Homo sapiens: one gene and its partner. The protein of the gene in region 2 purifies or fractionates together with the protein of the main gene of each other region. This does not show direct contact. Each region holds a gene or a part of one and is shown on either strand. Other genes may lie near its edges.

Region 1 (3,805 bases), on a different chromosome or scaffold from region 2:
GGTTTCACCATGTTGGCCAGGCTGGTCTCAAACTCCTGACCTCAGGTAATCTGCCCACCTTGGCCTCCCAAATGCTGGGATTACAGGCATGAGTCATCACACCTGGCCCTATCACCCTTATTCTTTTTTTTTTTTTTTTTTTTGAGACAGACTTTAGCTCTTATTGCCCAGGCTGGAGTGCAATGGCACAATCTCGGCTCACCACAATCTCCACCTTTCAGGTTCAAGCGATTATCCTGCCTCAGCCTCTCAAGTAGCTAGCATCACAGGCATGCACCACCATGCCTGGCTAATTTCGCATTTTTAGTAAAGGCGGAGTTTCTACATGTTGGTCAGCCTGGTCTCGAACTTCCAATCTCAGGTGAACTGCCCGGCTCGGCCTCCCAAAATGTTGGGATTATAGGCATGAGCCACTGTGCTCAGCACCCTTATTCTTAAGTTAGTTTGGTTCTCTAAGGTTCCCAGGGCTGGCAGCCTCACTGAAGTAGAAATCTTTGTATTGTTCCTACCCAAAGACTGGTTTTTCTTTTCTTTCTTTCTTTCTTTTAGAAACAGGGTCTTGCTCTGTCACCCAGGCTGGAGTGCAGTGGTGAAATTGTAGCTCACTGCAGCCTCAAACTCCTGGGCTCAAGTGATCCTCCTGCCTCAGCCTCCCGAGTAGCAAGGACTACAGATGCATGTCACTAACCTGGCTAATTTTTTTTTTTTAATTTTTTGTAGAGATGGGGTCTCACTATGCTGCCCAGATAGTCTCGAACTCCTGGTTTTAAGTGATCCTCCCCTTAAGGGCTGGTTTTCAATCTGTCGGTAACTGGCTATTACAAAACAACCCAGGCAGCAGGATGAGTAGCAACTTGCTGGCCACAGGTCTACTTACAGGCACTTTCCTGCCTCCCTATGAAGGTTGTGAGTATAAATCTTGGCTGGATGCAGTGGTTCGTGCCTGTTAACCCCAGCACTTTGGGAGGCTGAGGCAGGCGGATCACTTGAGTCCAGGAATTTGAGACCAGCCTGGCCAACAAGGCAAAACCCCATCTTTAGAAGATATACAAAAAATTAGCTGGGTGTGGTGGTGCATGCCTGTAGTCCCAGCTACTTGGGAGTCTGAAGTGGGAGGACTGCTTGAGCCTGGGAGGTGGAGCACAGAGGTGGAGTGCAGTGAGCCGAGATCGCATCACTGCACTCCAGTCTGGAAGACAGAGTGAGACCCTGTCTCAAAAACAAACAAACAAAACTATGTATTCACAGCATACAGCATGATGTTTTAAATGTATGTATATACTACAAAATGATTAAGTCGAGCTAATTAACAGAATTTTTCATAAAGCCATTGCTGTGATAACTAATAGCTAATATTATAGAATATTTTAAATATTTTATAGAATATGCATTAAAATATTTTAATACTTCAAGTTTATTATAAATTTTAAATAGCAATATCTTAATATTACCATTTTAAGTTATTATATTTGATATGTTAATAGTATTACATACTAATATTTAATAATATTTTAATAGTATTTTTAAATAACATCTTCATTTTACTATTCAGCTCTTTTCGTAACAGCTCCTATTTACTGAGCACTTACTATGTGCTGCCAGGCACTACGGAAAGCGCTTCACCTTCTCATCCCAGGGAGTTCCTGCAGCGACCTTGTAAGGTTGCTGCCCTTATTCCTGCTTTAGAGATGAGGAAACTCGAGTGTCAAGTTACACGCCCAAGCTGCCCTGGGACACTGCTTGTGAACCCAGGAGAGTGATTCCAAGGTTGCAGCCCTTAGAACAATGATGGCTGCCTGGTCCTGTGCCCATCTGTTGGGTGGCCCTGGTCTCTCTGTGGTGCTTCATTACACCATCTCCTCACCCATCAGCACCTTAACTCCAGCTGAGCCCTCAGGTTTCTTCAGATGGACTCGTGCTCCAGCCCCTCAGAGGGCACATCCCTGCTGCCTGCCTTCCCCAAACGTACCCATGATCCTGCGAATGGGGTCATCGGGACTGGCCACGGCCTGGATCTGGCCCTTGAGCACGGTCTCCTTGTCCGTGGTGAAGGGAGAGGACCCACACAGGGAGAGGCAGCTGCTCACCTCCAGGCACACCTTCTCCCCGATGGTAGTGAGGACGTCCTTCAGATGGAAGGAGCTGGGGCAGAGGAGGGGAGAAAGGGCCTATAAGTAAAATACACCTCTAACCAGCTCCAACCGCCCACACCCGGGTGAGAATGACGGCACCAATAACTGGATTTGTGTGTTCAAGGGACAATTTGAGACTCTTTTCCCTGCCACCTTACCTCTCAGGCTGTGCATACCTGACCAGGGGGACTTTCTTTCTCTCCCTCTGCTAGAAAGGACAGTGGGAAGGGCAGGGGCTCAGAGTATACCAGGACCAACGACCCAAAGCACAACTTCCTGCTAGCCTCTGTGTGATAAAATCAGCCTGGAATGACCTCAGAATATCTTGATATACCTCTGGAGGAATACACAAGAAAGCAGGCATTTGGTAGCTGTGGGACAAGAGGGAGAGAGAAACTCTTCATTGGATGCCCTTTTGTACCTTTTGATTTTTGAAACATACACATGTATTAACTAATTTTAAAAGAATAAAGAGGCCGGGCTCAGTGGCTCACGCCTATAATCCCAGAACTTTGGGAGGCCAAGGCAGATGGATCAGGAGTTCTAGGTCAGGAGTTCAAGACCAGCCTGGCCAACATGGTGAAACCCCATCTCTACTAAAAATACAAAAAGATTAGCTGGGCATGGTGATAGGTGCCTGTAATCCCAGCTACTCAGGAGACTGTGGTAGGAGAATCACTTGAATCCAGGAAGTGGACGCCGAGATCACGTCATTGCACTCCAGCCTGGGCAACAAGAGTGAAACTCCATCACAAAAAAATAAAAAAATATATAAAAATTAAAAAATTTTTAAAAAATAAAAGAATAACGAAAAGTGAAATCCTAAAGTTAAAAAAAAAGAGTACCTGGATACCCTGGGTCCCCCAGGCTCTCCCAGGGTGCCTGTGGGGAGCCCCCATGCTGGCAGGCATGCTGTGAGAAGGTAACTGCCTCTGTTGTGGGTCTAGATCCTTTGTATGTAGAATTACTGGGGGGCATGGGAGCAAGCCCTGGCACTCACCATTGGCACCAGCTCTGTGCCCACCCCTGGAGGACCAGGGAGGATATGGGAGTGCAAGGCTGGGCTCCCAAGAAAGCACTGACCTGGATCCCACCCTCAGCGGGAGCTTTGACAGAGTAGTTCTCCAGGCAGGGGACCTAGGTGACAGCCCAGAGCTGTACCTGTGCAAAGGCCTCAGGCTAGGCCCTCAGCTGAGCAAACAAGTTTCCTGGCCTCTCAGCAAACTAGTTTGACTGTCAAAACTGTTGAGGCCCTAGTCACAACTTACGGACACGCCCCACACTGCACTGAACACAGCCATGCTTTGTGAAAATTCAGCAGTAAAATTCCTCCATTTTGTAAGGATGAGAATGTTTAGGGGGTACTTCCCTTGAAGAAGTCTCTGAATTGGACCTTGTTAGATAGAGCATTTACTTAGAACCACTCAAAGATATTCTATAGGCTGGAAACCATAGAAGTCACCCAACATGACTCCATGGTAGGAGCGGTCACTGAAGCCTGCACGCGTGCAGATGCGGACTCGTGCTGGGTAAGAAAATGATGCATTACACTGAGCACAGAACGCCTACAGGGAACAAGCAAGGGCAGAACACTTCAACCACATACATGCAGCTCTGCAGGAATATAGCTGGTTTCTCTCATGACCTTCCTCTAGGGCTCTGCTTTTCACTGT
Region 2 (4,492 bases):
AGCTGGCGTTGACCAGGTCCACTAGACGGCCCTGGTCCAGCTTGTCCAGGCTGCGCACCCGTAGCATTCGCTCGGCGTTCTTGAACAGGGTCCCGGACCCTGGAGGAGGATGGGGAGGGGCTAGTCTGGCTGGAGGGCCGTTTGCGCAGCCTGGTGGGGACTGCAGGTAGGACAGGCGCTGGTGGGACAATTTCCGTCTTTGGGAGACCTCCACAGTGAAATGATTTCAGTGGTCTGCATAGATTTGTCTGTGATTTTCATTCAAGGAGATGCTTTCCCCAGGCAGAGATTGTGCCCCAAGTTCCTCCTGTCGCCTGGAGCCCCACCCACTTCCGTTAGTCTTGCCTCGCTCCTTGAAGTCTGTCTCCCGCCGCTGACCCGGCCCACCCACCTAAGCCCCGCCCATCTCTCCCGGTCGAACACCTCCCTTATGGTCCCGCCCCTGGCCCCGCCCACCGGGGGGCCCCTCCTTCTCCCCCCTAGTCCCGCCCATTCCTTTAATTCCTTCGGAGTTCCCTTCCAGTACACTGGGTCTCCTCCTCTCTCACCTCCCCCGGGTTTCGGCAGCAGCAGGAGCCATTGCTGTGACACCCCCCGCCTCCCCCTACGGCTCCTGGACAGGAGGAGAAGCCGCTCCTCCTGACCGCAGACACCCAGCCCCGGCCAGTACTCACTCCCGGGACCCAGTCCCCGGCCCGCCCACCGCCCTCACCCTTGTTGCTAAAGAGCTCAGTGAGCAGCGTGCTAGCGGCGGTGATGACGGCCGAGGAGTGGTGGGGCAGGCGGCTGAGCACGTCCACGATGAGCCGCATCTGCTGCCGTTCTTTTGTGCTCACCCACTCGGCGTTGCACACCAGGTCCAGGTCGGCGGGCAGGTTCACGTTACTCAGGACCTGTGTCCGGAGTCAGCGGGTGAGCCTGGCCCACAGCCGGCACGGACTGCCCCCCTACCCCCACGGACCTCTCTTTTCTCTGACCCCTTTATCCTTACTTCCGCCCGGAGTCCTTAGCCAGGGAGGGCGCAGATCTGGGCACCCAGGGCTGAACTCCTCCCCTATACTCCCTTAGGCTTTTCTACCCACCCGGCTTGCTAGTGAGTCTGCGGCCCGTCGGGGAGAAGTGCGAGGGGCGCAAGAGAAGGCCCGGATCGCCGGCGTGGGGGAAGGTGAAAGAAAGGGCCGCACCTTATGACTGCTGTCGCGCAGGCCGCCTGTGTTATTGAGGAAGATGATTTTGGTGGGCCGCAGCGCCTTGGCCAGCGACGCGGTCACCTCCAGGGAGTCGAGAAGCACGGAGCGGCGCGCGGCCGTCTCCCCGATGGGGCACAGGATGGGGATGCTGCCCGACTCCAGGCACCACTGCAGCAGGTCTGTCTCCACCGAGACGATGCCGCCGTAGCTGTGGGCCAGACGTGGTGCTCGAGAGGGCCCCCTCCAGGCCTGCCGGACGGGGCAGGGCGGGCAGAGTAGCACGCTCTGAGGACGCCTGGGCGGGCAGGGCGGGCACTCACCTGGCATGGGGAGCCGGCTCGGCAGCGCGTAGCACAGACCCGCCGCCAAAAAATGGCACAGCAGCGGCGGCGTTGTGTCGAAGCGCGTCTACCAGCACCTTGCAGCTCTTGGCCAGCTGCGCCTTGGCCTCCCAGAAGGAAAGACAGCCCGAGGGAGCCGTAGGGGCCGGCAGCCCCAGGACCACCAGCGGCTTCATGTCCATGCGCTGCAAGAAGGCCAGGGCAAAGGCCAGACTGGATACGCCCTGCTGGCACTTGAGCACCTCCTCGTCCACCTGCGGAGGAGTGGGCTTTCAAGGAGCGTGACACGGACCTGAGCCGCTGGCTCCCACAGCCTGGCCTGCAGGGCCGTCTCGGTGACCCTACCCTTCCAGAAGCTGTCAGGACCCAGTTCTGGCCACCAGTGCCCACCTGCTCCGCCCTTTGCCCCGTTGGGTCTTGCCACTCCCTTGTCTCACGCTGGGGTACCTCCCGCCCTCCTCCCTCCGACCTTGGACTCCGGGACATCTTTGGGGGAGGGGCAGTGCAAGCGGCTCCTGTCCAGGTCCTTCTGAACCCCTAACTGCGCCCATGTTGGGGGCCTTCTTCAGAGCATCACACCTGGCGGGTGGGGTCCCCCAGGATCCTCACTCGGGCTGGGCGGGAGGCTTCCGGAGGAGCTTACGGCCTCTCCCATTCCCGGCGGCGCTGGTCTGGGCCCTGCCGGGCTCCTTCCCGCTTCCGCTGCGCAGAGCCCGCAGCGTATCCTGCCATGCCTGAGGACAGGTGGCCGCACAACCCCATCCCCTCGCTGCGTCACGGCCCACGCCGGGCTCCGCTCACCTCGATGACGGCGAAGGGCTTGTCCGCGGAGTGATGGCAGGTCTGGAACTGCGTGAGCCAGTGGCGCGCCTCCCCAGGGCTGGCCCCGCACTGGTTCAGGAAGGCCTGGATGTCCCGCTGCACCAGCGAGCGGCCCGAAGGAGGCTCTGGGGACTCGTGGGGCACCGGGGGCCTGGGACTCGGCACCCACGACGGCTCCTCGGCGACGGGCGACTGGGAGACGTCGTCCGCGCCCGCGTACTCCTCGGGCGGGGGCTGGGGCTGCGACCAGGCGGTGCTGAGCCGGCGCCCCGGGCTGGTGCCCCTCGCCGCCCGCCGCCGCGCGCCACAGCTCAGCCTTCGGGCGCCCCCAGTGCCTCCCCGGCCTCTCAGCCTCGGGGCTACAGCAGCTGCCCGCAGAACCACAGCCATCAGCGCCGTCGCCATGACGACAACCAACTCTTGCCCCCCAAGAGTGGCAGTCTGTCTGGAGCGTCTGGCACTGGGGGGCTCTTAACTTGCCGTTGGGCGGGGCTGGACCTGGTCGGGGCGGGGTCCGGACAGGGGACCAGGAGTCTCCTCTGGGTGCGTTTGAGGAGGGTCAGGCCATGAGTCAGGGGGCGGGGCCACTAGGCTCCCCCGCCCCTGGAGGAACTGAACCCACTATCGGTCATGGGGCCGAGACTAAATGTGGCGGGTTGTCTTTAATCTGCTGCCAAGGTAGGTTCCAGGGGCGGCTTTGGGAGTCTGCAGGGCCTTGGATGATTGGCATTCTGACCAGAGAAGAAGGGACTGTAGGTGGCTTTGAGCACAGGGCTGGGCAGGGGGCTGGAAGGAGGGCGCTGGAAAGAGTAGAAGAAGGGGGGCAGTGGGAGGGCGGGGGCGGGTGGTGCTGGCCTTGTCTGTCCTGTTGCCTGAGCTCAAAAAAGATCCTAATGAATGACCATGAGGTTACCAGGGTTTGCCAAACTCCAGTCACTGGGTACCAGCTTGAGGAATTCTGTGATATCCTCAAAACACCCCTCAAAACTTATAATACTTTAGTGTTAATGCTTTTCTTTATCGAATATCACATCTGGTAAAAATAAAATAAAATAGAGTTTTTTATTTTGGTTTTTGAGATAGGGTCTCACTCTGTTGTTGCCCAGGCTGCAGTACAGTGGTGCAATCATAGCTCACTGCAGCCTCCACCTCCCAGGTTCAAATGATCCTCCTGCCTCAGTCTCCCTAGTAGCTGGGACCACAAATGCACACCACCATGCCCAGCTGATTTAAAAAAAAATTATTTTTTTTGAAGACGGGTGTTCACCATGTTGCCCAGACTGTTCGTGAACTCCTGAGCTCAAGCAGTCCTCCCACTTCTGCCTCCCAAGGTGCTGGGATTACAGGTGTGAGCTACTTCACTCGACCTCTGTAACCCTTTTTTTTTTTTTTTTTTTTGTTTGTTTGTTTGTTTGAGATGGAGTCCCACCCTATTGCCCAGGCTGGAGTGCAGTGTTGCGATCTCGGCTCACTGTAATCCCCGCCTTCTGGGTTCAAGCGATTCTCCTGCCTCAGCCTCCTGAGTAGCAGGGATTACAGGCAGACACCATCACACCCGGCTAATCTTTGTATTTTTAGTAGAGACAGGGTTTCACCATGTTGGCCAGGATTGTCTCAAACTCCTGACCTCGTGATCCACCTGCCTCAGCCTCCCAAAGTGCTGGGATTACAGGCGTGAGCCACCACGCCCGGCCCTCTTTAACCTTTTTAAACTTAAAGTTTATCCATGTTAGGTCTGTAACTAGGCCAGTATCACTTGCCATAAGCCTTAAGAATCAAGTGAGGAGGCGGGTGGGTCATTTGAGGTCAGAAGTTCAAGACCAGCCTGGCCAACATGGTGAAACCCCATCTCTACTAAAAATACAAAAATTAGCCAGGCAGTAGTGGCATGTTTCTGTAATCCCAGCTACTCAGGAGGCCAGAGAATCACTTGAGCCTGGGAGGAGGAGATTGCGGTGAACTGAGACTGTGCCACTGCACTCCCGTCTGGGCGACAGAATGAGACCCTGTCTCAAAAAAATTAAAATTAAAATTAAAATCAAAATTAAAAAAGAATCAAGTGAGAGGAAAACAATGTTATTACATTCCATTATATTCCATCTGCATAGCTTGCCTGCTTTCTTGGTAACATGGAAGGTT

Evidence for each region.
Region 1: the proteins of NAGS (region 2) and TCP11L1 purify together in Homo sapiens (affinity purification with mass spectrometry; one large-scale study listed by BioGRID and IntAct). This does not show direct contact.

The regions. Positions count from the first base shown.
Region 1 is NC_000011.10:33,067,024-33,070,828, reverse strand, and holds part of TCP11L1 (T-complex protein 11-like protein 1), read right to left. Parts: intron 2,143-3,805; coding exon 1,970-2,142; intron 1-1,969.
Region 2 is NC_000017.11:44,002,930-44,007,421, reverse strand, and holds the start of NAGS (N-acetylglutamate synthase, mitochondrial), read right to left. Parts: upstream 2,801-4,492; 5' UTR 2,759-2,800; coding exon 2,333-2,758; exon of another isoform or gene 2,111-2,332; intron 1,786-2,110; coding exon 1,511-1,785; intron 1,399-1,510; coding exon 1,185-1,398; intron 894-1,184; coding exon 713-893; intron 100-712; coding exon 1-99. UniProt on the Homo sapiens protein: Plays a role in the regulation of ureagenesis by producing the essential cofactor N-acetylglutamate (NAG), thus modulating carbamoylphosphate synthase I (CPS1) activity.